Homo sapiens: one gene and its partner. The protein of the gene in region 1 purifies or fractionates together with the protein of each later gene. This does not show direct contact. Each region holds a gene or a part of one and is shown on either strand. Other genes may lie near its edges. The genes, in order: CCZ1 and RMC1.

Region 1 (16,330 bases):
CTCATGCCTGCAATCCCAGCACTTTGGGAGGCCGAGGCGGGTGGATCACCTGAGGTCAGGAGTTCGAGACCACCCTGGCCAACATGGTGAAACCCCATCTCTACTGAAAGTACAAAAATTTGCCAGGCGTGGTGGCAGACGCCTGTAATTCCAGCTACTTGTGAGGCTGAGGCAGGAGAATCACTTGAACCCAGGAGGTGGTGGTTGCAGCCAGCTGAGATCACACCACTGTGCTCCAGCCTGGGTGACAGAGAGAGATTCCATCTCAAAAAAATAATAAATAAATAAATAAAAAGAAATAAAATAAAGTGCAGCATGGTAACTACAGAAAATGAAGGAAAAAAATTAAAATTAAAATTTTAAAAAAGACCAGTCTGGACAACATAGGGAGACCGTGTCGCTACAAAAAAACTTAAAAATTAGCTGGGTGTGGTAGCATGCACCTGTGGTCCCAGCTACTCGGGAGGCTGAGGTGGGAGGATCCCTTGAGCCTGGAAGTTGAGGCCACAGTGAGCCATGATCATGCCACTACACTCCAATCTGGGTGATAGAGTGAGACCCTGTCTCAAAAATAAATTAATAAAATAAATAAAATGAAAAGAGATGCAGAGTTTGCCCAATAATTATCATTAAACCAAAGTAGTAATAAATTCTTTATTCTTTATTTTTTATTTTTATTTTTGAGACAGAGTCTCGCTCTGTTGCCCCCAGGCTGGAGTGCAGTGGCGTGATCTTGGCCTACTGCAACATCTACCTCCTGAGTTCAAGTGATCTTCCCACCTCAGTTTCCCAAGTAGCTGGGATTATAAGTGCCTGCCACCATGCCCAGCTAATTTTTGTATTGTTACTTGAGATGGGGTTTCACCATGTTGGCCAGGCTGGTCTCAAACTCCCAACCTCAGGTGATCCACCCGCCTCAGCCTCCCAAAGTGCTGGGATTACAGGCATGAGCCACCGCACGTGGCCCAAAGTAGTAATAAATTCTGATTTCAAAAAAATCTTTCATGCCTAGAGTGTGTCCCACACTCAAATTAATGAAAGCTTGGCATGCTATTCTGTTCCCAAAATTTCTATTCATTGTTTGACTCATTTGCATGTATTTTCATGTACTGAAGGAGACTGTTAAATATAACATACCCAAAACGAAATCAAAACTCTAGAGAAAATTAGAACAATCCAGAAAAGGGATTGACAGACATATAACCAACTTTATCTTTGCGCTTGCCTTCTCAATTTTTACCTAATTTGTAGATGACCACAGGTCTACCTCAAGAGAGCTTGTTCTCAGCACCAAAATGATGTACGTCGACTTTGTTGTTGTTGAGACAGAGTTTCGCTCTTGTTGCCCAGGCCAGAGTGCAATGGTGCAGTCTCAGCTCAACGCAACTGCCGCCTCCCCAGTTCAAGCAATTCTCCTGCCTCAGCCTCCCGAGTAGCTGGGATTACAGGCATGCACCACCACGCCTGGCTAATTTTGTATTTTTAGTAGAGACAGGGTTTCACCATGTTGGTCAGGCTGGTCTCGAACTCCCGATCTCAGATGATCTGCCCACCTTGGCCTCCCAAAGTACTGGAATTATAGGTATGAGCCACCACGCCTGGCCATATATTGACTTTGAAATGAAAGTCCATGGCCAGGCGTGGTGCCTCACACCTGTAATCCCAACACTTCGGAAGGCCAAGGTTCAAGGATCACTTGAGCCCAGGAGTTTGAGACTAGCTGGGGCAACATAGCAAGATCCCATCTCAAAATTTAAAAGTTAGCTGGGCGTGGTGGTGCGGCTATTGTCCCAACTATTCAGGAGGATGCCTTGACCCACGGAGTTGGAGGCTACAGTGAGCTGTGATCGCACCACTGCACTCCAGTCTGGATGATAGACCAACAACCTAGCTCAAAAAAAAAAAAGAAAGAAAGAAAGAAAGAAAGAAAGAAATGAAGGTCTAGATTGCAACGTAGGTCACAGAGTTGAAAAACTAGGCATCCTATTATTTTCCCTAATTGCTGATAAAACAGGACTGGAAGTGTGGGCTTTCATTTTGACCATTTTTACTTAATTGTAATTTTGGCTTATAGTTTGGGAGAGTAGTTCATATTTTGGTAGGACATGATTTATTTATTTATTTATTTATTTATTTATTTATTTATTGAGATGGAGTCTCACTCTGTCACCAGGCTGGAGCGCGGTGGCACGATCTCGGCTCACTGCAACCTCCGCCTCCCGGGTTGGCAATTCTCCTGCCTCAGCCTTCCAAATAGCTGGGACTACAGGCGCCTGCCACCGCACTAGGGTAATTTTTGTATTTTTAGTAGAGACGGGGTTTCACCATGTTGGCCAGACTGGTCTTGAACCCCTGACCTCAGGTGATCCACCCACCTCGGCCTCCCAAAGTGCTGGGATTACAGGCATGAGTCACCACGCCCGGCCAGGACATGATCTTAAAACCAGCTTTGTGTGTTTGCTTTGGCAGCCTGTATACTAAAATTGGAACAATACAGAGATTAGCATAAAAAAATAAAAATTTAAAAACCAGCTTTGTGAATGTTTAGTTGTTGACTAATAAGAATTATTAAAATACTTCAAACATTATCTAGTATTTTGCTTCAGCATCTGTACATGATGAAGTATTTATAAGATTTTGTAAATACTATAAGTACCACTAATTAGTAAATACTTTAGCAATTTGTAAATACTAAGTATTTTAATATTTAGCACTACTATATAATTGCACAAAATCTAATTAATTAGTATTTTGTAATAGTTATTTGCTAAGTACTGCTACTCAGTAAATATGTTAGTATTTTGTAAGTAGTCATTTGCTAAGTACTGCTACACAGTAAATACTTTCATATTTTGTAAGCAGTCATTTGCTAAGTACGGCTATTCAGTAAATGTTTTAGTATTCTGTAGGTAGTCATTTGCTAAGTACTGATACTCATAAATGCTTTAGGATTTTGTAAGTAGTTATTTACTAAGTAGTAGTACTTAGTAGAGACGTAGTAGCAGTATTTACAAAGTAGTTCTTTCTAGCTCATAAGCAACGGATAGCAAAACAGTGATGATAGGAAATACTTGCCTATTTGTACAGGTTTACAAGCTACGTAGTTAATTCTCTGTCATGACTGCAGTTTAAGTTTATGGAATGGGTACTCAGGAATCCAACTGCAAGCAAAAACCTATCTTCTATCTCTTCTGCTCATGTTAAGGTATGAGGTTACTTTGCAAACACTTAAGAAGACAGATGAAATTGGAATCACCAGGATGGTTTCCACCTGGCCTGTTAATTTATTCACTGGAAAGACTCTTCATTTGCATATGTTTTCACAGGTTTCAAAAAGTCAACTTGTTTTTGGCGGGGTGTATAGATTTTGACATTGTTTTCCTAGGGGCTCTACAATGACTGTAAATCTATTCACCTTAAATTGTTATGTTTTTGAGACAGGGTCTCGGTGTGTTGCCCAGGCTGGCATACAGGGGAGCAATCATGGCTCACTGCAGCCTCCACCTCCCCAGGCTCAGGTGATCCTCCCACCTCAGCCTCCTGAGTAGCTTGGACTACAGGTGCATGCCACCCCGCTCAGCTAAGTTTTGTATTTTTAGTAGAGACGGGGTTTCACCATGTTGGCCAGGCTGATCTCAATCTCCTGACCTCAAGTGATCTGCCCGCCTTGGCCTCCTAAAGTGCTGGGATTACAGATGTGAGCCACTGTTCCTGGCCGGAACTGTGACTTTCTACTTGGAACTGAGCTCCCTTTCCAACACCAAAATGTGTCTTTCCCACAGCTCATTCCCTTGGAATTTTGAGTTCGCAAATTCTTTGTGCAAAACGTCTAACTTCTATTTCTGTAACTGAACTTGATTCGAATTCCCATTGTGCTGGGAGTCAGAATCTTAATTATGTCAGGTAATTAAGCAACCTCTTCTCCCTTCTTACCATAGGCTGGGGGAGAGAGTCGAGGCCCCAGATGGGACTGGAGTATTCTCAGTCCGAATAGTGAACACAGAGTCATCCTCAATCCTCTCTACTCTCGTGGTCTTGAGGGGCCACTGCTACCTCCTCCTGGTCCTGACCTTGAGGCTTCTCAGCACTGGCTTTCTCTGAATTCCTTTTATGCACAAGTAAATCATTCAGCTTCTTCCTGAACAATAAGGATATCTCGTCCAGATACCCCTGTTCCCTGGTTACTCTACTGTTACTGAGCCATGCTGGACCCAGAGGGGAACTCTGCAAAGCTCACCACCTCCCCCAGCTTCCCCAGGGAGAAAGACACACACACCCTCTCCTCTGAGACCTCCAAACCTATGCGGGTATCTGTCATCACTACCACTCCTGCCTCGTACCCGTCCACACCCAAGGACTGTGTTTGGAGAGGCAGATGCATTGAGCTCTAAGCGTTCTTGCATCCTTAACTTTGAAACCATAAAAGCATGTTCTTTTCTTTGATCTCTGCATGTTTAATTTTGTTTTTTGTCATCTCCCTCTTTCGATGCCTCCTGCAATGAATTCTATGTGGGAGGAAGGGAGAGGCAAACATGTACAAGGACACAGAGGTATCCTGGGAGAAACTGTGACTCATACTATAAAATATTAATCTCACTCACTTGTATAGCACCTTGTGCTTTATTTTTATTTATTTATTTATTTATTTATTTATTTATTTATTTTTTGAGGCAGAGTCTCACTCCATCCCGCTGCTGGAGTGCAGTGGCGCAATCTCAGCTCACTGCAACCTCCGCCTCCCAGGTTCAAGCAATTCTCCTGCCTCGGTCTCCCGAGTAGCTGGGACTACAGGCACCTGCCACCACGCATGGCTATTTATTTTTATTTTTTAGTAGAGACGATGTTTCACCATGTTGGGCCTCAAACTCCTGACCTCAAGTGATCTGCCAGCCTCGGCCTCCCAAAGTGCTGGGATTACAGGCATGAGCCACCACACCCAGCCAAAACATGTATTTCTCATGGAATAATTTCATGCACTAGAGCAAGCTAATTGGGAAAGTCAATAGCAAGGAGCAGTAGCAATCGTTTATGAAATAATGATGAGGTGCTGGCACCTGATGCACATTCATAGTCCCATTTAACTCTTCAAGTGAAACTCTCACTTGGCAGGAATTTACTATTAGCCATTTTCCAAATAAGAGATACAGACAAGAGAGTCTCCATCTCTTCTTTGGTGCAAGGAGATTGGTGCAGTCGGTGAGTGGCAAAAGTGGATATGTACCCAGATCTGTCTCCAGTCCAAATTCCAACTCATCACTTCCCTAAAAGTGGTCTATTCTGCCAGGCTGGATAAGGGAAGTGGTTCTGCTTCCAAACTTAATATGTGACAGATAAGGCAATCTAAACCAAAGTCTTCTTGAGCTTGGTCAAACCATATGCTGCCAAGGCTTGAATCCACATAACTGTAACAAGCCATCCCAACTATGCCACAACCCACACACCTCAAAGGCAAGGGAATCCCAGGCAGCAAGGTCCAGGAACAGCCACTCTGGGGAGTCTGCCACCTCTGATATTGCTCCCGTGGCACACACGGTGCCCCATCTGCCTCCAGACCTGCGCTGAAGGAATGGGGGAAAGGGGCAAACTTTGTAGGTGTGGGTGATCCAGTGGTCACTTGAGGTCTCTCAAACAAGGACTCTGTAGATGATGTTAATGGGCCAAACGGAATGCACATCTGCCCTTAAGTGTGTTTCTTTTCTTTCTTTTCTTCTTTCTTTCTTTCTTTTTTTTTTTTTTTTGTTGAGACAGGGTCTGGATCTGTTGCCCAGGCTGGAGTGTAGTGGTGCAATCTTGGCTCACTGCAACCTCCACCTACTGGGTTCAAGTAATTCTTCTGCCTCAAGCCTCCCAAGTAGCTGGAACCACAGGCATGTGCCACCACGCCTGGCTAGTTTTTTGTATTTTAGTAGAGACGGGGCTGGTCTGGAACTCCGGGCCTCAAGTGATCCACCCACCTTGGCCTCCCAAAGTGCTGGGATTACAGCTATGAGCCACCGTGGCTAGCCTTGTTTATTTCTAAATGAGGCTTCCTTTGTGTCTCTACATTTCCTTCTACAAAAAAAACTGCCATGGCACAGGGGCTTATGCCTACAATCCCAGCACTTGGAGAGCCCAAGGCCAGTGGATCACTTGAGTCCAGGAGTTCGAGACCAGCCTGGGTTAACATAGTGAGACCCCAGCTCTACGAAAAATTTAAAAATTAGCCAGCCATGGTGGCATGCACCTGTGGTCCCAGCTATTCGGGAGGCTGAGGTGGGAGGATCACTTGAGCCCAGGAGTTCCAGGCTGCAGTGACGTCTGATCTGGCCACTGCAATCCAGCCTGGGCAACAGAGCAAAGTGCTGTTTTAGAATAAAATACTTTTTAAATAAACTAAAAACAAAACAATGGACCTGGTGTGGGTGGCTCACATCTGTAATCCCAGCACTTTGGGAGGGCAGGTGAGGCAGAATAGGGAATGAGGGTAACCAAGGGTTAAGGCATAAACAAAAGAACAGCAGGTGCAGCCAGTTCTAGGCAAGATTAGGCAGCATAGAGGCCACGTGTTCATTCCCTCAATCAGAGGCTGATTGATGGACGACGGGGGGGGGGGCGGGGGGGAGGGTGACAGCCTCTGATTGACGGGGGGGGGGGGGGGGGCGGGTGCGCGTCTCCACTTCAGCCTCTGATTGGTCACAGGCCAATCCTTCAGAGGGTGTAACCAATCGGAGACCTCTAACGGGCACCTAGGGGCGTTACCTAATTCTTCCAGCTTAATAAAAATCCTAATGGGGGCTCTTGAGCTGTTTGCTCTAGCTTGCTCCTGCTCTGTGAGTTGTACTTTCGCTTCAATAAATCTGTTTCTTCCTTACTTCAGTTTTTTCTTTTGTTTCTTTTCGTTGCTTTGTTCTTTTGTTACTTTGTGCATTGCATTTTGTTCAGTTCTGTGTTCAACAAGCCAAGAACCTGGGCAATCCACGGTCAAGACCTTCCATCCAGTAGCAGAGGCAGGAGGATCCCCTGATGCCAAGAGTTAGAGAGCAGCCGGGGCAACAAAGTGAGACCCTGTCTCTACTATCTATCTATCTATTTTTTAATTATCTGGGCATGGTAGTGCATGCCTGTGGTCTCAGCTACTCCTCAGGCTGAGGTGGGAAGATCCCTTGAGCCCAGGAGTTGAGGCTGCAGTGAGCTATGATGGCACCACTGCACTGCAACCTGGGTGACAAAGCGAGATCTTGTCTCTAAATTAAATTTAAAACAATACCACCAAAACAACAACAGGCTGGGCGGTGGTGTCTCACGCCTGTAATCGGAGCACTTTGGGAGGCCGAAGTGGGAGACCATTTGAGGCCAGGAGTTCGAGAGCAGCCTGGGCAACACAGACCCCACCTCTACAAAAAAATAAAACTGGCCTTGGTGGCGCGCGCCTGTAATCCTAGCTACTTGGGAGGCTGAGGCAGGGGGATTGCTTGAGTCTCGGACGTTGAGGCTGCAGTGAGCTGAGATCGCGCCACTACACTCCAGCCTGGATGACAAACTGAGACCCTATCAGAAAAAACAACAACAAAAAAAAAACAGTGCCCGCTCGGTTTTTCCTGAAACGCGCAGCCCTCGCCTGTAGCCAGGAGAAAACTCCGCGAGCCAGGAAAACACAAACTCGGCCAGGAAACAGCCACCCGGGGGTGCCTGAAGAGGACGCTGCGAGGCGGATTCTTTTTCCGGGCCTGCGGCGAGCGCTTCCGGGGCGGTGGCGACGGAGGCGGAAGTGCGGTGTTTTAGCCGGTGGCTGCTGTCTCTGGGCGGGCCGTGGGAGGCTCCCGAGGTGGGGGCCGGGGCGGGATGGCTGCAGCGGCGGCCGGGGCCGGGAGCGGGCCCTGGGCGGCCCAGGAGAAGCAGTTCCCGCCGGCGCTGCTGAGTTTCTTCATCTACAACCCGCGCTTCGGGCCGCGCGAAGGACAGGTATGCGGAGGGGGCGGCGCGCGGGCGGGCGGCGCCGGTGTTCCCCGGGAAGGTGGCCCTGTGGTTCTGCCCACCTCGAGGGGCACTGACCTAGCCTGCATTGTGCCAGGTGCGAGTCCGGGCAGGGGGCTGCGGCGGGGACCTGACAGCAGGCAGGGACCGCTTCAGGTCCTAGGTCGATGGAATAAAGCCCCGTCGGGTCTATATCACTCCACACCCCAGGTTGAGGCTCTTTGCGCTTTGCTTTGCGTCAGTTCTGGGAAATTAAAATTGAACTTGGCTTTGTTAAGTGGGTAGTCCCCAACTAGAAGCGTGGAACCAGGGTGGCAGACGCTAGCCTTCAAATGATGCAAGCCTGGAGGTCCCTGTAATAGTTTTCGCCCAAATGAGGAAATAAATTAATTTCGGGAGGGGGGTGTGTGTGTGTGTGTGTGTGTGTGTGTGTGTGTGTGTGTGTGTGTGTGGTTTTTCTGAGGTGGGGACGGCGACTTTCTCAAAGGATGTCCGGAGCTGTGTTTTGTTTCCAGCAAGTCAGACTTCTGTTAAAGACTGTCCAGGCTGGGCGCTGTGACTCACGCCTGTAATCCCAGCACTTTAGGAGGCCGAGATGGGAGGATTGCTTGAGGCCAGGGGTTCCAGACCAGCCTGGGCAACATAGCAAGACCCCCAACTCTACAAAAAAAAAAAAAATTGAAAAGTGAGCCGGGCGTGGTGGCACGCACCTGTATTTCCAGTTACTCAGGAGGCTGAGGCCAGAGGATCGCTTGAGCCCAAGTGATTGAGGCTGCAGGTGAGCTGTAATAGCGCCACTGCACTACAGCCTGGGCAGCACAGACCCCATCTCCAGAAAAAGAAAAAAAAGCAACTTGTCAGTTCAAATGGCTGGGAACTGACTGGATTTAATTTTCAGGGAGCTATGTGTCTGCAGATGGGCACACCTTTATTTCTTACAAGCATTGGTGTATTACAAATTAGCACTAGGAAAGAAACCTAGAGACTTGAGTTTTCATAAAAATTACCTGGTGCTACTTCAGATGTGACTTACTGACTATCGAAATTGCCTTTCTGACTGGTGGGCAGTATTTGCACAATGATGAGATCATTCCTGTTCTTCTTCTTATTTTAAATAATAGAGACGTCTCACTGTGTTGCCATGCTGGTCTTGAACTCCTGAGCTCAAGTGATCCTCCCGCCTCAGCCTCTGAAAATACTAGGATTACAATTCCTGTTTTTCTAAAACCGGTTTTTGTTTTGTTTTGTCATTAGCATGTGTGACACAAGAGGTCGACATTGAACTTAGCGTTTTCAATAGCTAAGATGAAATGTTTCTATTCATGTTGTGCTTCTGTTTCCTCATGTTTCAGGAGGAAAATAAGATTTTATTTTATCATCCAAATGAGGTAGAAAAGAATGAGAAGATTAGAAATGTCGGATTGTGTGAAGCTATTGTACAGTTTACAAGGTAATACCTCTAAGTGTGCTTTTAGCGTTCAGTGAATTCTTAAAACTGCTGCTGGAGAATTGTCCCAAACATATTTTTTTAACCTTTGTAGGACATTTAGCCCATCAAAACCTGCAAAATCTTTACATACACAGAAGAACAGACAGTTCTTCAATGAACCAGAAGAAAATTTCTGGATGGTCATGGTATTTACATACACAGTGTATCTTTCTGAAATTGTATGGTGAAGTTATGGGTGATCTTTACTGTTCAGAATTTAGGAAAGTTCTCTGGCTGTTGCATCCAAGTAAAATTAAAATAAAATTGGTTGCAATTTTAAAATCAAGTTCTTCCTATTTGCTTTATTCATTCTTGGGGCTGTTTTAAGAAGCTATGTTTCTGATGCTGTAGCATGTTCAAAGTTTTTAAATTAAGGCAAAATAAACATGGTCTAATGAATTCATTGTATAATTTCAGTTTATCAAACTTTGTAGGTTGTTCGGAATCCTATAATTGAAAAACAGAGTAAAGATGGAAAACCAGTTATTGAATATCAAGAGGAGGAGTTGTTGGTAATGTGTCATTGTTTGTTTATTTATTTATTTTTTTAAATGTATTGCTGAGTATGTTGAATGCCTTACTTGGTCGGATTTAAACTAGGAGGCTTTTGCAGAAGTTTCTCGGGGTATATAGCAAAGGTTTATGTTTATCATTTACATGAGCACAATCTTTTTAAAATGTATATGCACCCAATCTCACTAATACCTTCTACTCTTCATTTATATTGAAAGCCCTCCTAAAGTAAGGCTTACTGATTCACAAATTAGAGTTTAAACACTTCTGGCTGGGAACAGTGGCTCACACCTGTAATCCTAGTACTTTGGGAGGTCAAGGCAGGCAGATTACTTGAGGTCAGGGGTCCGAGACCAGCCTGGCCAATATGGCGGAACCCTGTCTCTACTAAAACTACAAAAACTGGCCAGGGATGGTGGCGCACACCTGTCATCCCGGCTTCTCAGGAGGCTGAGGCAGGAGAATCGCTTGAACCGGGGACGCAAATGTTGCAGTGAGCCAAGATTGTACCACTGCGCTCCAGCCTGGACAACAGAGCGAGACTCCATCTCAAAAAAAAAAAAAAAAGAACGCAAACACTTTTTTTTCAGCACGCAACTATTGTGGGACAAAGTTTATAAACATTATACTGTTTGGCCAAGAGTTAGTGTACCTTTGCCATCTATCCAGTAGACATTGTTTTTCCCTTGAACTGAGCTGTGTGCTGTGTTTTCGCGTCTGCAGGACAAGGTTTATAGCTCGGTGCTGCGGCAGTGCTACAGCATGTACAAGGTAAGCGTGGCGTTCTTTCTCAACTCAGAGTCCAGCCACTTACCCCTATCTCTAGGCTCCAGGGTTGTTTAAAGAGAAATCTGTAAATGACTGCAAAGTGACTCTGTATTTGTCTTAGAGAAGAAAATAATGAGGCCTTTGAAACAGGTAGTGAGGTTTATGCCTACATTTATTCAGTAAGTATTGAACTCCCTTCTCTTTTCTCAGCCTTATAGTAGGAATGTGTCCCCATTGATGAAAAAGTGTGTCTATGTGCTCAAGGAATGTACAGAATGCAGATAATTTTATGATTTAAAAGTTTCAGTGAGGCAGGGCACAGTGGATCACACCTGTAATTTCAGCATTCTGGGAGGCTAAGGTGGGAGGATTGCTTGAGCCCAGGAGTTCAGGACCAGTCTGGGCAATATAGCAAGAACCCATCTCTACAAAAAATTTTTATAAAAGTTAGCCAGGTATCATGGTGCATGCCTGTAGTCCCAGCTACCTGGGAGGCTGAGGTGGGAGGATCGCTCGCGCCTTGGAGGTCGAGGCTGCAGTGAACTGTGATTGCACCACTGCACTCTACCCTGGGCAACAGAGCGAGATTCCATCTCAAAAAAAAAAAAAAAAAGGATAAAAAGTTTGGTGATTCCATTTATTAACAGAACACTGAAAAATAAAAAAACAGAAATGTGGGTGATATTATGTATGTAAATTGAAACTTCAGGGTAAGTTGAAATTTTTGAAAGATGCCTAGAGCAATTAGGTGGTTTCATAAATAAGACAGCATCACTTAACAGTATTTTTTGTAACTTACATTTTTAACTCAAGTTTTCTCATGTAAATATTCTCTGTTGGAAAGAACTGGGAGATTTAATGAGCTGAATTAATAATCTAAAGGAAAAAAAGAACTTGTTATACTGAAAAAGTGAGCATAGGAAACTGATTTTTTTTCCTGCAATCTTTTACCTCACTAGCTTTTTAATGGTACATTTCTGAAAGCCATGGAAGACGGAGGCGTCAAGCTTCTGAAAGAAAGATTAGAGAAATTCTTCCATCGGGTAAGTATTTTGAATTTCATTTATAACTTTAGTAAGCATTCAGCAGGTTTTTAGAGAAATATAGACAGACAAGTTTGTTTCTTATATACAAAAAACCCAGAACTTGAAAGTGGCAAAGAGCCTGAGACAGACCGTCGCAAAACTGGAGCAGCGAGGAAACGCATGAGGCTTGTGCTCTGGAACCTTCCCTCCAGCTGTGGTGTAAGGCAGAGCTTCCTGCGTTTGCCCGGGGCTCTTAAAGGGTCCTGGAGACATCGTTTGGCCTCCCTGTGTTTTACCTGCATCTGTCCTTCTGGGCTTACTCAGCAGCCATCTTTTGTGTGATAGATTAGTTGATAAGGAAAACTTAATTATTGGAGTTGCACAATCTCAGGGATTGGTTCTGTTCACTAAACGGGCGTGAACCGTCTTGATGTAGGTAAGAGTTACTGGCCTTGACAGACTTTGTCAGATTAGCGATTGGGGAGATTTGTTCCAAGTGCTGTCCTCTTTCGTTGTAATTGAATTTTGCATGTTTCACCCTACCTTGTCAAGCTCAGTTTATCTTTTTTTTAAAAGGAAACAAAGAGACAGGGTCTTGTCTTGGTTGTTTTGCCCAGGCTGGTTTCAAGCGATCTTCCCTCCTTGGCCTCCCAAAGTGCTGGGGTTAAAGGCATGAGCCAACTCGCCCAGCCTAGTTTATCTCGAAGCAACAATTCTCAATTTATTTTCTTCTGAAAATACCTTCTGTATCTATTTTTGAATTCGACTTTCTAAAACAGCTTTCATAGCTATTTTTGAATTTTTTTGTTTCTCTGAATTACTTTTCTTTGTTTTGTCATTTTAATGACCACAGTTATCCACTCGCATATTATCTCCTGGTTTCTGTTCTTGTCCTCATTTCTCTCTTACCCATCAACATATGGATAGAACTGTTGTCCTGAGTACATATCATTTAGACATGATTTTAGTATAAGATGGCACTCTTGGCTGGGTGTGGTGGCTTACGCCTGTGATCCCACCACTTTGGGAGGCCGATGCGGGCAGATCTTGAGGTCATGAGTTCGAGACCAGCCTGGCCAACATGGTGAAACCTCATCTCTACTAAAAAATACCAAAAAACTAGCTGGGCGTGGTGGCGCACGCCTGTAATCCCAGCTATTCTGGAGGCTGAGGCAGGAGAATCGCTTGAACCCCGGAGGCGAGGTTGCAGTGAGCCGAGATCACACCGCTGCACTCCAGCCTGGGTGACAGACCAAGACTCCATCTCGGGGGGGGAAATAAAGATGGCACTCTCTGTAGTATTAATGGATAGATCCCTCATTAGGTTAGTCTAATTTGAAGAGCATTAAGGCAGGGAGTTAATTTTTTTTTTTTTTTTTTTTTGAGACAGAATCTTACTCTTGTCACCCAGGCTAGAGTGCAATGGTGTGATCTTGGCTCACTGCAACCTTAGTCTCCCAAGTTCAAGTGATTCTCCTGTCTCAGCCTCCTGAATAGTTGGGATTACAGGCTACCACGCCCGGCTAATGTTGTAATTTTATTAGAGACGGGGTTTTGTCATGTTGGCGAGGCTGGTCTCAAACTCCTGACCTCAAGTGATGTGCCCGCCTTGGCCTCCCAAAGGGCTGGGATTACAGGCGCGAGCCGCTGTGCCTGGCCAGGAATTAAAAACTTGAAAGTGCTAGCTGGGCACAGTGGCTCATGCCTGTATTCCCAGCGCTTTGGGACGCCTAGACACGAGAATCACGGAGGCCAGAAGTTCAAGACCAGCCTAGGCAACATAGCAAGACTCTGTCTATACCAAAAAAAAAAAAAAAAATTTTTGGCCAGGCGTGGTGGCTCACACCTCTAATCCCAGCACTTTGGGAGGCCGAGGCAGGCAGATCACGAGTCAGGAGATTGAGACCATCCTGGCTAACATGGTGAAACCCCATCTCTACTAAAAATGGAAAAAAATAGCTGGGCATGGTGGCAGGCGCCTGTAGTCCCAGCTGCTCAGGAGGCTGAGGCAGGAGAATGGTGTGAACCTGGAAGGCGGAGCTTGCAGTGAGCTGAGATCGCACCACTGCACTCCAGCCTGGATGACAGAGCAAGACTCTGTCACAAAAAAATAAATTTAAAGCAGTAAAACACAATACTGAATAAACATTAAGTAGATATGTTTGAACTTTGTATCTTGGAATTGGTACTGAGACTGAGTTGGCACTCAGTTACCCATGTCTTCACCACGGCCTCATTGTTGCGCTGTTTGCTAGTATGTAATTGTACCATAAATGTGAGTCTGACATAAGATTATTTTCAGTTATCAAGGAGCATTATATTCAGTGTACTATTAGTAAATTTTATGCCTTATTTTTTTTCCCACAGTATTTGCAAACGCTACATTTGCAGTCATGTGACCTACTTGACATTTTTGGTGGAATCAGCTTCTTCCCGTTGGATAAAATGACTTATTTGAAAATCCAGTCCTTTATTAATAGAATGGAGGAAAGCCTGAATATAGTCAAATACACTGCTTTTCTCTATAACGATCAGCTCATCTGGTAGGTACACCCCGAGGCATGGTATTAAAAGAAGAAATTAAGATAATAAAAACAGCAGTGACTGGATTGATGACAGGTTGTCAAACAGGAACTTGCAGCGGGGAGGATGGGTAGGAAGCATCTTCATAGATATTGTCAAAATAAAGCAGTGATTATTTAAAGCAGAACTAGGGTGATTTGGGTTCAAATTTCCAAGCAGAGGAGTTTAAAACTGGTTGCATGAAAGATGAAAGGCTGGGCACGGTGGCTCACACCTGTAATCTTAGCACTTTGGGAGGCTGAGGCGGGTGAATCACGAGGTCAGGAGTTGGAGACCAGCCTGGTCAACATAGTGAAACCCTGTCTCTACTAAAAATACAAAAAGTAGCTGGGCGTGGTGGTGCATGCCTGTAATCCCAGCTACTCAGGAGGCTGAGGCAGGAGAATCACTTGAACCCGGGAGGCGGAGGTTGCAGTGAGCCGAGATGGCACCACTGTACCCCAGCCTGGCAACAGAGAGAGACTCTGTCTCCAAAAAAAAAAAAAAAAAAAAAAAAAAGAGAAAATGTTCCTATCAAGTAAGGTTTAGGAATCCTGTTTTTATTTTGGAGTTTTTTTTTTTTTCTGAAATGATAAAAGCAGAATTTTTATACCTTTTTTTTTTTTTTTCTTTCTTATAGAGACGGGGTTTACTGTGTTGCCCAGGCTGGTCTCAAACTCCTGGCCTCAAGCGATCCACCCGCCTCAGCCTCCCAAAGTGCTGGGATTACAGGCACGAGCCACTGCACCTACTTTCTTTTAAAGAAACTAGATTTCTTTTTTTTTAATCCAAGAAATCCAAAGTGTTATATAAACCAGGAAATTACCTGCTATCGTGAAACTAGGTTTGTGTCCTGCAGTAGGAACAACGTGGGCACAAGACTGCCCAGCATATGTGACCCCTGAGAGCTGGGTGGCAACCGAGGTTGTGCACATTTGGCCTAGAGTAGGTGGACAGAAGTCATCAAGGCTTGCAGCTGTTCTGGGACCCTCAAGTTTTATGTTCCCGTTGACTAGAGCCCACTTTCTTTCTTTCTTTTTTTTTTTTTTTTTTGAGACGGAGTCTCACTCTGTTGCCAGGCTGGAGTACAGTGGCGCGATCTTGGCTCACTGCAACTTCCCCTTCCTGGGTTCAAGCGATTCTCCTGCCTCAGCCTCCCAAGTAGCTGGGATTACAGGCATATGCCACCATGCCCGGCTAATTTTTGTATTTTCAGTACAGACAAGGTTTTACCATGTTGGCCAGGCTGGTCCTAAACCCCTGACCTCAGGTGATTCCCCTGCATAGGCCTCCCAAGGTGCCTCGATTACAGGTGTGAGCCACTGCACCTGGCCTAGCCCAGTTTCTTAATTAGGGGTGTGGCCATATGGTACTACTATAAGGTAAATTCAGCTAATAGAAAAGGCAAAACTAGTTCCCCTAAAATTTACCTTCCCTGCCAAAATCTTGTAGCTCCATTTTAAGAAGAGAAACAAGTTACTGTAAAGAAATTTGAATCCAGTTAATAAACAACTTGGTGGGTTTCCACATGAACTTTATCTCCTAGGAAGACAACAGAAATTTCGGGTGAAACCCATCTACTTTTTTTTTTGTTTTTGAGATGGAGTCGCTTTCTGTTGCCCAGGCTGGAGTGCAGTGGCATGATCTTGGCTTGCTGCAACCCCTGCCTCCTGGGTTCAAGCAATTCTCCTGCCTCAGCCTCCCGAGTAGCTGGGATTACAGGTGCATACCACAACACCCAGCTAATTTTTTTGTAGAGATGGGGTTTTACCATGTTGGCCAGGCTGGTCTCGAACTCCTGACCTCAAAGGATCCGCCCACCTTGGCCTCCCAGTGCTGGGATTACAGGTGTGAGCCACTGTGCCCCGCCTCCACCTACTTTCTAATTTGACAAATAGTTTATCAGGCAACCTTACACTGTACTGACTCAGCTATAGTTGCTTTCTGTGATATGTACACAATGTTACTAAAGTGAAATTCTGCTGTGAAATGTAGGAGATGGGAGGCTAGTTGTGCTTCT
Region 2 (16,440 bases), on another chromosome or scaffold:
GCTGGGTGTGGTGGCGCATGCCTGTAATCCCAGCTACTGGGGAGGCTGAGGCAGGAGAATCGCTTAAACCCAGGAGTTGGAGGTTGCAGTGAGCCGAGATGGCACCACTGCACTCCAGCCTGGTGACAAAGCGAGATTCCGTCTCAAAATAATTATTATTATTATTATAATAAATTAACTGGGCGTGGTGATGTGCGCCTGTAGGCCCAGCTACTTGGGAGGCTGAAGCAGGAGGATCGCCTGAGCCCAGGAGCTCAAGGCTGCAGTAAGCTGAGATAGCACTACTGCACTCCAGGCTGGGTGACGGAGCAAGACCCTGCCTTAAAAAAATAAGATTTCTTTAGGCCGGGCACAGTGGCTCATGCCTGTAATCCCAGCACTTTGGGAGGCCGAGGCAGGCGGATCACCTGAGGTTGGGAGTTTGAGACCAGCCTGACCAACATGGAAAAACCTCGTCTCTACTAAAAATACAAAATTAGCTGGGCGTGGTGGCACATGCCTGTAATCCCAGCTATTCAGGAGGCTGAGGCAGGAGAATCGCTTGAACCCGGGAGGCGGAGGTTGCAGTGAGCCAAGATCACGCCATTGCACTCCAGCCTGGGCAACGAGCAAAACTCCGTCTCAAAAAAAAAAAAAAAAAAAAAAAAGATTTCTCTAATAAAGAGATTACCCAGGAAGAGACAATTAACAGACTGAGGAGGCTTCCTCAGCAAGGCCAGAAAGAGGAGCACACCTCCCGGGCTCATGCAGAACAGAAAAGGGCACGGACACCGGTGGGAAGGTCGATGGGAGAAATGAGGGAGACACCCTGGGGTGGAGTCCGGCTTTCCATCCACCCTGGGGTGGAGTCTGGCTTTTCCAGAATGGGCTTAAGCAGGAGAATGGCATTCTTAGTTGTTGCTTTAATTATTAAAAGTAGTATATGTTCTTGATAAAATGCACATATAGTAAAAAACGTATAAAGTGAAAAAAAAAAATCCCATTCCCACGCTTGAAAGGAGGGGTCATTTCTAAGAGATTCACCTTGAAAACGTCCCTGGCTACAACTGGGATCCAAAGTCAACAAGCACCATGTTGTAACACGACAACTGTCCCCGCTGACCTACCTTGGCTTGCGCTGATAATGATGTCAGGTTGAAAGACAATCCAAGATGAAGAATCCACATGTTATAGGAAATTCTAAACCAGGAAAAGATGAAAACAAAAAGCAAACCCAGTTTCCGCTAGCACTCGCCCCTGCCCACCATGTACTGAGTCCACGCTAAACGCGAGGCCCCTGGACAGTCAGGGAAGCTGCCTGCGGGGTGGCTCTCGGAGTGTTATTCACAGCTGCCCGGAGGAGGACTTCAGGACCACTCTCTGAGGGTGACCACTTGCCCTGTTGTGCACGGTGCCACACCTTAGTAAAGGATACAGAGTTTACATGGAACAGGAGACTGGCTGGTCACGGCAGCAGGACCTACAAATTGAGAAAACATAAGTGCAACGATGCAGTCAGAAAATGCTGCAAATGCTGGTACTTATGACACAAAAGTCAATACTTTTTAATGTCATTACGAAATGTTTATTCAATTGTAGTCAAGGAAGAAATGAACTGTTCCGTCTCACTGAAAGCACGTACGGGGAGGAAGGGGGAAGGAGCTAACAATCCAGGAAAATCTCACCAAGAAAAAGAAAGCATGTCAAGGCTTCAATCACTGTGGTTTGGGTTATTTTTAATAACCAAAGATGACTCATGATCGTTTACATATGCACGTTAAGGAACTGAGAAATTTACTTGAAGGATTCAAAATCAAATACCCAGATCATCCACGGAGAATGTTTCAAATAAATGTGGCTTGTAGCTTAATTATCTTTTTTTTTCTTTAAGAGAGGGTGTTGCTCTGCTGTCCAGGCTTGAGTGCAGTAGTTGATCATAGCCCACTATAACCACGAACTCCTTGGCTCAAGTGGTCCTCCTGCCTCAGCCTTCAGAGTAGCTAGGACTACAGGCATGTGACCATGCCCTAACTTTTTTTCTTTTTTTTTTTTTTTTTTTTTTTTTTGTGAAGACAAGGTCTATGTTACCTAGGCTGGTCTCCAACTCCTGGGCTTAAGTGATCTGCCCACCTCAGCCTCCCAACATGCTGCGATTACAGGCATGAGCCACTGTGCCCAGCCACTTAATTATCTAAATAATTAGTTCGATTATCCATTGCATAGAGTAGGTCCAAGCACAGTGAGCTCGTCTGGGAAGCAGACCCCCAAAACCTCACATGACAGGGACCGTTAACAACCAGTTATACTGCTCATGAGCCATGCAGGCAGCCCTACAAGCTAACCATGACTCCTGGTTCTGTTCCAATTACCCAGGTACAATCAGAAGGCAGGTTTCAATCAGCTGGTCAGAGAAAGGGTCATTGTGAACAGACCACCCAAAGGTAGGAAAGAGCCCAGGCAGACAAGCTTTGGCGAAGAGCACTCGCGCTTTGGACCTAAGTGTCAAGGTCTGCGCCGAGTGCACAGCCCTCACCTTTGGGTGGCTGACCTACACACTGTCAGGTGAGAGCTTTCATTTTTAAGGCCCCCCAGATGATCCTAATATGTAGTCAGATTGAGACCCACTGTTCTAACAGGCCCAAAACAAAAAGAAAAAGGGTGGCTGACTCTTCCCAAAAGTGCTGGTTATATCTTTCTCAACAGGCCCATTCAATTCCTGAGCACGCCCACCCAGTGGCAGCACAGTGGGCAAGACACACGGATGCATCAAGCCGCCAGGGCTCACAGCCCAGCAGGAAACAAAAGGAGAGTCACTAACCTCTGAAAATGCTTTGCAGCCCACACTACCTAGATCCCCAGACCCTCAGTGGATTCCTGATTTCCTCCTATTGATCTCTGCACGGGCTGTTACTGTGACCAGGCCTCGCATCTGTTCCCTTATGACCAGATGGTTAGAACCTGATGCCTCCTAACTGGTCCTGTACCACCGGAACAGAGCTGAAGGTTCTAAGCCAGGGGTGTCCAATGTTTTGGCTTCCCTGGGCCTTAAGAGGAAGAAGAAGAATGGTCTTGGGCCACACATAAAATACACTAACACTAACAATAGCTGATGAGCTTAAAAAATATCATTAAAAAAATCTCATAATGTTTTAAGAAAGTTTAAGAATTTGTGTTGGGCTGCATTCAAAGCTGTCCTGGGCCACATGTGGCCCACAGACCGTGGGTTGGACAGGCTTGTTCTAAATGTTTAGTTTTTTTCCCCCAATTCACCAGCAGTTACCTTCATGCCAAGTGGGCAGCAGACACAAGACAATCACTTGGCAAAATCTATTCTTTCAATACTAACATTATTTACAAAGGAAAAGGAAGAAGCTTGAAAGAACACAGAAAGCCAAAAGACCTAATTGAACGTCTGTTAAGAACCAGCTCCTTCCTCCAACTGTGCCAGAAAGTAACTAAGCTTTTGGCTGGTCCAGCAAGACAGGGCAGTCAGGCTGACAATGGTGCTCTTGCTGAACTTTCAGCCAGAGTGCGATTCTGAACTCCCGGGTGAACGGTACAAGGAAATCCTGACTGCAGGCTGGGTCAACCCGCCCAATGCCATCGGACAAAGAATAAAACATTACTACTAGGGTTCCAAATGTGAGCCATCTGACTACGTCTTGCACACTGAAACCTCAGACTAGCCAATTCTGCACTCCAATCTCCTTCAAAAGAGAGCCGGGAGAGACTGCTGCGAGGGACAGGCACAGAAGAAAGACCCTGTGAGAACACAGTGAGAAGGTGGCCATCTGCAAAGAGGCCTGCCAGGAGGGAGGCCTCAGAAGAAAGCAAACCTGCAGACATCTTGATCTTGAACTTCTAGCCTCCAGAACTGTGAGAAAATAAAGTTCTGTTTAAGGAAAAAAAAAAAAGAGAGAGAGTGTGTGTTGAATATTCTTTCAGTTCTATCTTAAAATCAATTACACTGGAAAAAGGCAAAACGAAGCAAATAAATGACTTCTTTCCCTTTTCCTGAATTCCTGACCTCCACTCTTCTGACTTCCCAACCCCACCTCTCCAGACAGAAGGAGGACTGATTTGGGTAAGCCTAAGAGCCACAGCCGAAGCACTTACTGTGACTGTCAGTCCCAAAGAATGCAATATTCATCATCACTGTCACACGGAATGTGAGAAAGAGAAAAGTGATCCCAGGTTACAGTAACAAACCTACAGCCAAAGTTAATTTCAGCGTTACAGAGCTAAGGCAAACAGAAAACGTTACGGGTGTATTCAATATTAAAACATATTTCACCATCAACGGCTAATCAAAACTATCCATTCTAAAGCTCAGGGAAGATAAATTATTCTATTTCCTCCCAAGGGAGATTCATCTATCTTAGAAAATGCTTTTTTCACAACATAATTTTAGCTTATAGGATCAGTAGTAGTTGCATTTTTTAAAAAACTAGAACAGGCTGGGCATGGTGGCTCACACTTGTAATCCTAGCACTTTGGGAGAGCGAGGCAGGCGGATCACCTGAGGTCAGGAGTTCAAGACCAGTCTGGCCAACATGGTGAAACCCCATCTCTACCAAAAATATAAAAATTTGGGCCAGGCGTGGTGGCTCATGCCTGTAATCCCACCACTTTGAGAGGCCAAGGTGGGCAGATCACTTGAGGCCAGAAGTTCAAGACCAGCCTGGCCAACATGGTGAAACCCCATCTCTACTAAAAATACAAAAAAATTAGCTGGGCGTGGTGGTGCACGCCTGTAATCCCAGCTACTTGGGAGGCTGAGGCAGGAGAATCACTTGAACCTTATCTCCTCTCACAAGTATTTAAGCGATTGAATACTTGGTTCAATTGCTTGAATACCTCACAAGCTTGAACCTTGTGACAGACAGGTGGAGGTTGCAGTGAGCCGAGATCATGCCACTGCACTCCAGCCTGGGCAACAAAGTGAGGCTCTGTCAAAAAAATAAATTTAAAAAAATATAAAAATTAGCTGGGCACGGTGGCACACACCTGTAATCCCCACTACTTGGGAGGCTGAGGCAGGATAATCACTTGAACCCAGGAGGTGGAGACTGTAGTGAGCCAAGATCACGACACTACCTACCAGCCTGGGTGACTCAGTGAGACTGTCTCAAAACAACAACAAAACTGGAACAAATGGCCCCTGGCAAAATCAGACAGATCTGGGAATCTCTGTTTATTCCTCACTCCACTTTTAACGTGACTCCCAAAGATCATGGTGAGAACACAGCCACATGGTGAAAGGGCAGCACAGACTCCTCTACAGAACCCGTGTTACCTGTGATGGGGATCTGATAGGGCTGGATCGATCGAGCGGGAAGCACGGGGTGGTGGAAGGTAACGGAGCCGTCAAACTCTCCCCGTAACTTGATATCGAATATTACCGATGTCTGGGGGGGAAAAAGACAAGACTGAGGCCAAAATCAATCATGGTTTGCCCAGTTGCTTTCATTCCATCCCATCTTGCTGTTTAAATCAGTTTAAAAGCCTGTGTTTGCATTTCCTCCCTACAGGCTAGCTCTTACTTGAGAAGGAATTTGTCATTAACATCACAACTCTCTTTTAATATTTTTATCTCCTCTCACAAGTATTTCCTGCATTTATGACATGCTTCCTTTGATGAGCTCACTCAAAGTGACCTAAGCAGATCTCTGTCATTTCAACTGGAAACATCCTCACGTGTCACAGAGTTAGCGTCACCACCCTCTGGGAGGGTAGAGGAGGTAAGCAGCTTCTTTATATCAGAGGCCCAGCCCACAGGACCCATTCTAGTTGTCCTGGTCCACACGGCCTCAAAACCATTATCCCCCAGCACTGTCATCCATGCTCACAATTGCAACAGAGAGTTCAAGTACTCGTGGAATGGAGCGGATTCCCACCTTCTTCCAAGGTCAAATCTCAAGCGTTAGTTTCTGAAATAGTTTTGAATTATCTTTAATCAACTGACACAATCACTTTTTTCTAAACTACTTGAGACTACCAAACCCATTTCCATCTGGAAGACCAAAACTCTTAGCATAAAAATGCACTTTCTAGTCTTATTCAGACATTTTGCCAATTTTTTTTTTTTTTCGGAGACAGGATCTTGCTCCATCACCCAGGCTGGAGTGCAGTGGCGCGATCTCCACTCACTGAAGCCCCGACCTCCTGGGCTCAAGCCATCCTCCAGCCTTAGCCCCACAAGTAGCTGGGACTATAGGCGTGCACTACCACGCCCGGCTAATTTTTGTATTTTTTATATAGGTGGGGTTTTGCCATGCTGCTCAGGCTGGTCTCGAACTCCTGGGCTCAAGCAATCTGTCCGCCTTGGCCTCCCAAAGTGCTGGGATTACAGGCGTGATCCACCGTGCCCAGCCACCAATTTTCACAAGGCTTTTAAGCAACCTTAACTTTGGTAGAAACGCAGACAGCTTGTACCTCTGTATCCTGATGATGCACGACTACCAGGTTGTCCACCACGTTCAGGGCAAACTTTCCCGTCCTATTTAACTTCAATATGTGCATCTTTTTACAGGCACCTTCTCTGTAGGATAGAAAGCAAAAAACAGATCAACAAGCTGCAGTTCACATTTTAAAATCAGAGAGAGAGGGAAAACAAAGCATGAAATCTACCGTGGTAGATGATAGAGGACCACCTCCGCTCCTGTGCTGTTGGAGGTCCGAGAATGATGCCTCAAGAAGAGAACATACAGCTGCCCGTATCTAATTAGGGAACAAACAGACATAAATCACATCTGGCCATTCAAAATTCCTTTGTTCTAAATGGCATCACGGTTAAGTAAATTATAAGATATTCACTTAATGGAGTATTTTGCTGCCAACAAGTGTTTACAAAGAAACATGCAGTTACTCAAAGCCTATTATAAAGTTAAGTGGAAAAGAGAACACACACTAAACACAGCTTGATCATAATATTTTAAAAGAAAACCCCAAACCTAAGCATAGAGTCTAAAATGATTGGAAAGAAACACATGTAATAGTTATACTTGAGTGATATGCTAAGTTCATTTTCTTCTCTGTTTTCCAAGTTTTGTATAATGAATGTATATTCCTTAATAACAGGAAAATATAATCACTATTTTTTTTTTTCATTTTTCAGAGACAGGGTCTCCCTCTGTCACCCAGGCTGGAATGCAGTGGTGCAACCACAGCTCACTGCAACCTCCACCTCCTAGGCTTTGGCGATCTTCCCTCACCTCAGCCTCCCCAGTAGCTAGGACTACATGCACGTGCCACCGTGCCTGGCTAATTTTTAAATTTTTTTGTAGAAACAGGGTCTCACTATGTTGCCCGGGCTGGTCTTGAACTCCTGGCCTCAAGGCGATCCCCCTGCCTTGGCCTCCCCAGTCACTGGTATTACAGGTGTGTGCCACCATGCTCAGCCTTTTCTATTTAAGTGCCATCTAATAAATGTTGCTGTGAACAGTTCCTGAATGCATATTCTAGTCCAGTGGTAAACTCTGTGCTGGGCCTGCCCAGGGACAAGGAGGAGACCAAGGTGGGAGGGAACAGGTCCCCACCTCCACTTCAGCCAGGACTGCTCTCACTTTATCTATTGTCTAAACAGGAATGCTGGCTGGGCACGGCGGCTCATGCCTATAAACCCAGCACTTTGGGAGGATGAGGCGGGAGGATCACCCGAGCCCAGGAGTTCAAGACCAGCCTGGGCAACATGGTGAAACTCCATCTCTTCAGAAAATACAAAAATTATCCAGATGTGGTGGCATGCGCCTGTAGTCCCAGCTACTTGGGAGACTGTGGCAGGAAAATCACTTGAACCTAGAAGGCGGAGGTTGTGGTGAGCTGAGATTGTAACACTGCACTCCAGCCTGGGCAACAGAGCGACACTCTCCAAAAAAAATTTAAAAATAAACAGGAATGCCACAGAAGAGTACGTTTAAAAAAAAAGGAAGAAGAAATGAAAGAACATTATACTAACTACCATAAAGTTTGAAAGTTTGGGCCACTGTTTTAGGCCACAGAAGAATCAGAAGTAACTTAGAAGCAAAATTTTGACTATTGTCGAATCAGATACAGGCATACAGGGGTTCTTTTTTATTAGTCTCTATTGTGTGTTTAAAATTTTCATTACAAATTTAAAAACTGAGATATCCACTTTTTCAAATGAAAATATACCTCCGTACTGCCAGGCGTGGTGGCTCACGCCTGTAATCCCAACACTTTGGGAGGCTGAGGAGGGCAGATCAAGAGGTCAAGAGACCGAGACCACCCTGGCCAACATGGTGAAACCCTGTCTCTACTAAAAATACAAAAATTAGTTGGGCATGGTGGCACGCACCTGTAGTCCCAGCTACTCGGGAGGCTGAGGCAGGAGAATCGCTTGAACCTGGGAGGCGGAGGTTGCAGTGAGCCAAGATCGTGCCACTGTACTCCAGCCTGGCAACAGAGCAAGACTCCATCACAAAAACAAACAAAAAAAAAAAGTAAAAGAAAATATACCTCTATATATACGTAATTTAGTTCCATGTCTGTTACATAAAATCTTAATCTATTTTCTTATTTAGAACAATTATTATTTAACTGAGCTTTTAAAAAAAATAAACTTGGCCAGGCACAGTGGCTCATGCCTGTAATCCCAGCACTTTGGGAAGCCAAGGCAGGTGGATCACTTGAGGTCAGGAGTTCGAGACCAGCCTGGCCAACATGGTGAAGCCCTGTCTCTACCAAAAATACAAAGACTAGCCGGGCGAGGTGACGCACACTTGTAATCCCAGCTACTTGGGAGGCTGAAGCAGAAGAATCGTTTGAGCCTGGGAGGTGGAGGCTGCAGTGAGCCGACACTGCACCACTGCACTCCAGCCTAGGGGACAGAACAAGACTCTGTCTCGAAAAAAAAAAAAAAAGAAGAAGAAATTCTAAAACAAAGATACTAAGAAATAAATTGGTTCAATGTTCTTGTTTTATCAGGCTAGAAAGGTAAAGGAATTCCTTAGCATCACAAAGCTGATAAAAATCAAAAAGGAATGCCAAAAACACTGCAGGTTTTCTATGTTCACAGGACCTATACACTGAATACCCAGAACAAGGGGAGTCCTCCTTATGTGTTCTAGGGGTCAGGGCATCACGTGGTGCTTGTAACACACTCCTTCTATTATTTATATTACTGAAAGCAATCACAGGATGGAATTCTCTCTGACACGGACATACATGGTAGCCATTGCGATGTCTCTTTCGGAAAGGCTGGGTTTAGTTGACTTAGGCGCAGCTGGTAATTCAATCTCAAATTTGGGCAGCTTCGACATAGTGCCAGCCTGTTTAGGGGGAAAATGTTTTAGGAAAAGCTTATTAAACCCCTTCAATGTTTCATCATTCCCTGTGTAAAACCAACAAGGATAAACACAGACTTCGTCTTTGGATCCTTTCCACCGTCCCCCATGTCCTCTCACAGCCTGTCTGCCCAGCATAGAATGAATGGCTCCAGGAGCTGACGGGTATACAGAGTGCCCTCTAGTGGTCAGAGCGGTGACGTTACGGCTAGAGGAACCTGTCCCTAACGTGCCTGACACATTAGGATGCTACAGGAACAGGGGACAACTGGGGAAAGGTGTTTTTTTCAGGGGAGGCTTCCTCTTACCCTAAAGTGAAAAGGCTGCAGGACATTCTCCAGGACCGTGGTAGACAGCAAGATCACGGCGCTCTCGGGGCAGTACATGTACCAATTCACATTGAGATTGTGGCTCTTCAAGAGTTTCAGACTCCGTTTCTCTGGTAATACCTGAAGCAGAGTTTAAGAAACAGGATCTTCATTTAAAAAACGGCAAACTAATCCCAGCACTTTGGGAGGCTAAGGTGGGCGGATCACCTGAGGTCAGGAGTTCGAGACCAGCCTGGACAAAATGGTAAAACCCCATCTCTACTAAAAATACAAAAATTAGCCAGGCGTGGTGGCACATGCCTGTAATTCCAGCTACTCAGAAGGCTGAGGCACAAGAATTGCTTGAATGAACCCAGGAGGCAGAGGTTGCAGTGAGTCAAGATTGCACCATCACACTCCAGCGTGAGTGACAGAGCGAGATTCAGTCTCAATTAATAAATAAATCAATAACAGCAAACTGTCAGAAGATCCTTACAGTGCGCTCTGAGAATAAAAAGCAGAAGAAACCCACTAAGTGAAATGAACATTCTCACTTGTACTTATTACAGCTACTACTTAACCAGCCCTATGCTTGGTGCTTTACAGAGCCTCCTAACTCATTTACTCTTTGCCACGACTGAGAGGCAGGCATCACTGGCCCTATTAGCCAGATGAGAAACAAGGCTCCAAGAGTGGATTAGGGAACCTGCCCCTTAACAAAGCAATTATAGCCTGGGTAGGCTGTTTCCCTCCAAAATCCTTATCTGTGCCTCCACATGCCTGGGCATGTGGAGCACATGGATACACCTAAGAGCAATTTACAACAAATTTCTCCTCATCCAGGAAACGGCCAAAAGAAACTGACACCTCCAGGACCCCATGTGTTAACTCGGCCACCTCCCAGACCATGGCAGATCTGCCTTCTGCTTGGCCTCCACCTCGACTCCAGTCTACACTGGGCCTGGGAGGAGCTCCCTTCTTCTAGCAGATGTGTTCATAAGACTCCATACAAATGCAGTACTTTATAATCCAGGCACATTTTCAATGTACCCTAAATATTCCGATATTACAGAACACTGTACAGAGCCCCCAAGACATTAATGCTCATGGTACACTGCACTGAAGAACTGCTGCGCAAGTCAGGGGCAGGAGCCGTAAGCTTCTTAAGAACTATAATAATTAGGATGTGCTAGAGTCTTCTTTCTTTTTAACTTTTTTCTTGAAGATCTGAAGCCATCTAGGTAACCTTAAGGTATACTTTCCCACTGCAGAGAACAGAAAGACAGACTTTTAAATGATTACCATAGGGAACTCCCCCAGAAAGCAAGCCATCCTTCCCATGCAATCACATGTACAAAATTCTATTTCTGTGTGTATGGAATTTGTCTAAAGTTTGTTTAAAGTTCTCCTATTGGTCATTACAAATTTTTTTTTTTTTTGAGACGGAGTTTCACTCTTGTTGCCCAGGCTGGAGTGCAGTGGCACAATCTCGGCTCACCGCAACCTCCACCTCCCACGTTCAAGGGATTCTTCTGCCTCAGCCTCCCAAGTAACTGGGATTATAGGCGCCCACCACCACACCCAGCTAATTTTTGTATTTTTATTTTGAGACAGTAGAGACGGCACTTAGTAAAGATGGAGTTTAATAGAGACGGGGTTTCGCCATGGCGGCCAGGCTGGTCTCGAACTCCTGACCTCAGATGATCGCCCACCTCGGCCTCCCAAAGTGCTAGGATTACAGGCATGAGCCACCGTGCCCAGCCAGTCATTACTAAGATTTCGATGATGGCCTTACAGCAAAGCACCATGGCATTAACACACAGGTGTATTTTCTCTAACCATACATTCTAAATTATATGACTTTCATTAGGTCAACAAAATTAAAACCTGAAAGAACTCTTAACACCCTCTAAATTAGTTCCCCTTAGAGATCTCAGAAGCATGCTTAATAGGTCAGGAAGCTGGAACAGATGAAAAGAAACAGGCAGGTACATCAAAGGACACAATCCACAGAGTGGAAAGGCAACCTCCGGATTCGGAGAAAATACTTGCAAATTGTATCTCTAAGAAGGTGTTAATATCAGAATATATAAAGAACTACAATTCAACAAATAATAGTAATTTGATTTTAAAAATAGGCACAATGACCCGAATTAGTCATTTCTCCAAAGATGATACACAAAGTGGCCAAAACACACACACAAAAGTGCTCAACATCACTAATCAACAAAGAGCGCAAATCAAAACCACAATTAAGATGGCTAGTATCAAAAACAAAACAAAACAAAACAGCAAGTGTTGGTGAGGATATGGAGAAACTGGGACCCTTGTACACTTGGAGGGATTGCAAAATGGTGTAACTGCTATGGAAAACAGTATAGCGGTTCCCTAAAATATTCAGAAACAGAACTACCATCTGCTCCAGCAATCTCACTCTGGGTATAAATCTAAAAGAACTGAAAACGGGATCTTGAAGCGGTATCTGCATACCTGTATTGACAGCAGCACTATTCACAATGGCCAAGAGGCAGAAGCAACCCAAATGTCCCTCAACAGATGAATGGATAAGCAAAATGTGGTGTATACGCTCAGTGCGGTATTATCAGTCTTAAAAAGGAAACCCTATCACATGCTATGGCATGGGGGAACCTGTAGGAAATTATGGTAGATGAAATAAGCCAGTCACAAAGGGACAAATACTGTATAATTTCACTTATATGAAGTATAAAAGGTAATCAAATTCGGCCGGACACAGTGGCTCACGCCTGTAATCCCAGCACTTTGGGAGGCTGAGGTGAGTGGATCACCTGAAGTCAGGAGTTCAAGACCAGCTTGGCCAACATGGTGAAATCCCATCTCTACCAAAAATACAAAAATTAGCCAGGCGTGGTGGCGCACACCTGTAATCCCAGCTATTCAGGAAGCTGAGACAGGAGAATCGCCTGAACCCAGGAGACAGAGGTTGCAGTGAGCTGAGATCACGCCACTGCACTCCAGCCTGGGCAACAGAGCAAGACTCCATCTTAAAAAAAAAGGAGTCAAATTCATAGAAACAGAAAGTAAAATAGAGATTGCTGGGGCTGCAGGGAAGGGATAAGGGGAGTTGTTTACTGGATAGTTTTGGTTTCACAAGATGAAAAAAGTTCTGGAGCTATTTCATAACAATGTGAATGAATATACTTAACACTACTGAACTGAACACTTAAAAACAGTTAAGATAATAAATGTTGTATGTTTTTTTACCACAGTAAAAAAAATATTTTTGACCACACACAGTGGCTCATGCCCATAAATCCCAGCACTCTGGGAGGCCAAGGCAGAAGAATGGCTTGAACCTAGGAGTTCAAGACCAGTCTAGGCAACACAGCAAGACCTCATCTCTACAAAAAAAAAAAAAGGAAAAAAAAATTAAGTTGGGCGTGCTGGCACACACCTGTAGTTCCAGCTACTCAGGAAGCTGAGGTGGGAGGACTACGTGAGGCTAGGAGGTCGAGGCTGCAGTGAGCCGTGATTGTGCCACTGTACTCCAGCCTGGGTGACAGAGATCCTGTCTCAAAATAATTATTACAAAATAAAAAAATTTTAAGAGGAAGTTAACAAAATACAAATGGACAATATACAAATGAAAAGATGCTTACTTCCCTAGTAATGTAAAATGCAAATTAAAATGTCTTTCGGCCAGGCATGGTGGCTCACGCCTGTAATCCCAGCACTTTAGGGGGCCGAGATAGGTGGATTATTTGAGGCCAGGGGTTCAAGACCAGCCTGGCCAACATGGTGAAACCCCACCTCTTCTAAAAATACAAAAATTAGCCAGGCGTGGTGCTGGGCGCCTGTAGACCCAGCTACTTGGGAGGCTGAGGCAGGAGAATTGCTTGAACCCAGGAGGTGGAGGTTGCCGTGAGCCGAGATCGCACCATTGCACTCCAGCCTGGGCGACGGAGTGAGACTCTGTCTCAGAAAAAAAAAAAAAAAAAAAAGTCTTTCTACCTCTCAGGTTGGCAAATGTCTATAGACTGATAATATCCAGTCCTCCTAAAGGTATGAAAAGCAGAAGTTCCTATATTGCTAGTGAAAATACACATGTCTAGAAGAAATTTGGCGATACTGGTTCAGCTTTTCAGATGTTCGTACCTATACTGCAACTCTCCCTCTAATATAAAGAAGTGTGTACAAGCATGTTACTGAAGGGTTATTTGTAATCACAAAAAAATGGAAAACCAGCCAATGTCCAATAACAAGAAAATTTTTAAACTGCAGTCCATCCATACAGTGGAATACTACCCAGTCAGAATAAAATATAGAAAGATGTCCAAGATACACTTTGGACAAAAAAAAAAAAAGCTAGCTGCAAAAGTTTATATACAACATTCCCCTTTTTGTTAAAAAGAAGTTTGTATTTATTTTTAAAAATAGAGGAATATGCACCAAACTGTTCATAATAATTATTTATCGGGATTATAGGGAACATTTGCTTTCCATATTACATATCTTGCAATGTTTGAATGTTTTTTGTTTTAACTTTTAGGTTCAGGGATAGATGTGAAGGTTTGTTACATACGTAAACTCATGTCACGGGGTTTGTGGTACAGATTATTTCATCACCCAGGTATTAAGTCCAGTACCCAATAGTTATCTTTTCTGCTCCTCTCCCTCCTCCCACCCTCCCCTGCTCAAGTAGCCCCCCGTGTCTGTTGTTTCCTTCTTTGCATTCATAACTTACATTTAGCTCCCACTTAGAAGTGAGATCATGTGGTATTTGGTTTTCTGTTCCTGTGTTAGTTTGCTAAGGATGATGGCCTCCAGCTCCATCCATGTTCCCACAAAAGACATGATCTTGTTCATTTTTATGGCTGCATAGTATTCCATGGTATATATGTACCACATTTTCTTTATCCAATCTGTCACTGATGGGCATTTAGGATGATTCCATGTCTTTGCCATTGTGAACAGTGCTGCAATGAACATTCACGTGCATGTGCCTTTATGGTAGAATAATTTATATTCCTCTGCATATTACACCCAGTAATGGGGCTGCTAGGTCAAACAGTAGTTCTGCTTTTAGCTCTCTGAGGAATCGCCATACTGTTTTCCACAAAGGTTGAACTAATTTACACTCCCAGCAATAGTGCATAAGGGTTCCCTTTTCTCCACAACCTTGCCAGTATCTGTTATTCTTTGACTTTTTTATAATGGCTATGCTGACTAGTGTGAGATAGTTTCTCATTGTGGTTTTGATTTGCATTTCTCTAATGATCAGTGATGTTGAGCTCTTTTATGTTTGTTGGTCGCATGTGTGTCTTCTTTTAAAAAGTGTCTGCTCATGTCCTTTGCCCACTTTTTTTTTTTTGAGACGGAGTCTCGCTCTGTTGCCCAGGCTGGAGTGCAGTGGCACCATCTCAGCTCACTACAAGCTCCGCCTTCCAGGTTCAAGCAATTCCCTGGCCTCAGCCTCCCTAGTAGCTGGGATTACAGGTGCCTGCCACCAACCTGGCTAATTTTTGTATTTTTAATAGAGACAGGGTTTCGTCATGTTGGCCATGCTGGTCTCGAACTCCTGACCTCAGGTGATCTGCCCACCTCGGTCTCCCAAAGTGCTGGGATTACAGGTGTGAGCCACTGTACCTGGCCTTTGCCCACTTTTTAATGTTGTTGTGTTTTTGTTTTTTTTTTTGAGATGGGGTCTCACTGTCATCCAGGCTGGAGTGCAGTGCTGTGATCTTGGCTCACTGCAACCTCCTGCCTCCCAGGCTCAAGCAATCCTCCCACTTCAGCCTCCCAAGTAGCTGGGACTACAGGCGCACACCACCATGCCTGACTAACATTTTGTATTTTTTATAGAGATGGGATTTCATCATGTTGGCCTGGCTGGTCTCAGACTCCTGGACTCAAGCCATCCACCCACCTTGGCCTTCCAAAGAGCTGGAATTACAGGCATGGGCCACCAAGCCCTTTTTCTTTTCTTTTTTTTTTTTTTAATTTATTACTTGCAATTATAAAAAAAAAAAAAAAGAATAAAATCCCCAGCAAGAGACTAAAGCTGAGTGGCCAAGGCAGGAGTTGAGGTTAGGAGTTTGACACCAGCCTGGGCAACATAGCAAGACTTCGTCTCTACAAAAAAGTTTAAAAATTAGCCAGGGCCGGGCGCAGTGGCTCACGCCTGTAATCCCAGCACTTTGGGAGGCCGAGGCGGGTGGATCACCTGAGGTCGGGAGTTCGAGACCAGTCTCAACATGGAGAAATCCCGTCTCTACTAAAAATACAAAATTACCCGGGCATGGTGATGCATGCCTGTAATCCCATCTACTCACGAGGCTGAGACAGGAGAATCGCTTGAACCTGGGAGGCGGAGGTTGCGGTGAGCCGAGATCGCGCCATTGCACTCCACCAGCCTGGGCAACAAGAGCGAAACTCCGTCTCAAAAATAAAATAAAATAAAATAAAATAATAAAAAGAAAAATTAGCCAGGCATGGTGGTACATGCCTGTAGTCCCACCTACTCAGGAGACTGAGGCAGGAGGATTGCTTGAGCCCAGGAGTTTGAGATTACAGTGAGCCATGATGGTGCCACTGCACTGCAGCCTGGGCAACAGAGCAAGACTCCATCTCTAGAAAATGTTTAAAATATATATATATATATTCAGTACTGAATTCAAAAGGCTGCCAGAATGCTATCACTGAACTTTAACCAACAAACATAAATGATAAACATAATACCTGGTAAAATTCGATTCCTTGATCTGTTATGAAGACAATTTCAGTTGAACTAGTCCAGCAGAATCCTAGAATGTTGGCATTCTTAGTCTAAGAAAAATTTTTTAAAAATATTTTTAATTAATAAGAAAAAA

The links.
Region 2: the proteins of CCZ1 (region 1) and RMC1 purify together in Homo sapiens (affinity purification with mass spectrometry; 2 studies listed by BioGRID and IntAct, with this or other methods). This does not show direct contact.

The regions. Positions count from the first base shown.
Region 1 is NC_000007.14:5,890,979-5,907,308, forward strand, and holds the start of CCZ1 (vacuolar fusion protein CCZ1 homolog), read left to right. Parts: upstream 1-7,754; 5' UTR 7,755-7,821; coding exon 7,822-7,941; intron 7,942-9,305; coding exon 9,306-9,403; intron 9,404-9,494; coding exon 9,495-9,588; intron 9,589-9,876; coding exon 9,877-9,954; intron 9,955-10,678; coding exon 10,679-10,726; intron 10,727-11,682; coding exon 11,683-11,766; intron 11,767-14,115; coding exon 14,116-14,291; intron 14,292-16,330. UniProt on the Homo sapiens protein: Acts in concert with MON1A, as a guanine exchange factor (GEF) for RAB7, promotes the exchange of GDP to GTP, converting it from an inactive GDP-bound form into an active GTP-bound form.
Region 2 is NC_000018.10:23,509,149-23,525,588, reverse strand, and holds part of RMC1 (regulator of MON1-CCZ1 complex), read right to left. Parts: intron 16,397-16,440; coding exon 16,310-16,396; intron 9,734-16,309; coding exon 9,593-9,733; intron 9,270-9,592; coding exon 9,166-9,269; intron 6,700-9,165; coding exon 6,610-6,699; intron 6,521-6,609; coding exon 6,415-6,520; intron 5,388-6,414; coding exon 5,276-5,387; intron 3,999-5,275; exon of another isoform or gene 2,700-3,998; coding exon of another isoform or gene 2,683-2,699; intron 1,460-2,682; coding exon 1,415-1,459; intron 1,161-1,414; coding exon 1,107-1,160; intron 1-1,106. UniProt on the Homo sapiens protein: Component of the CCZ1-MON1 RAB7A guanine exchange factor (GEF). Acts as a positive regulator of CCZ1-MON1A/B function necessary for endosomal/autophagic flux and efficient RAB7A localization.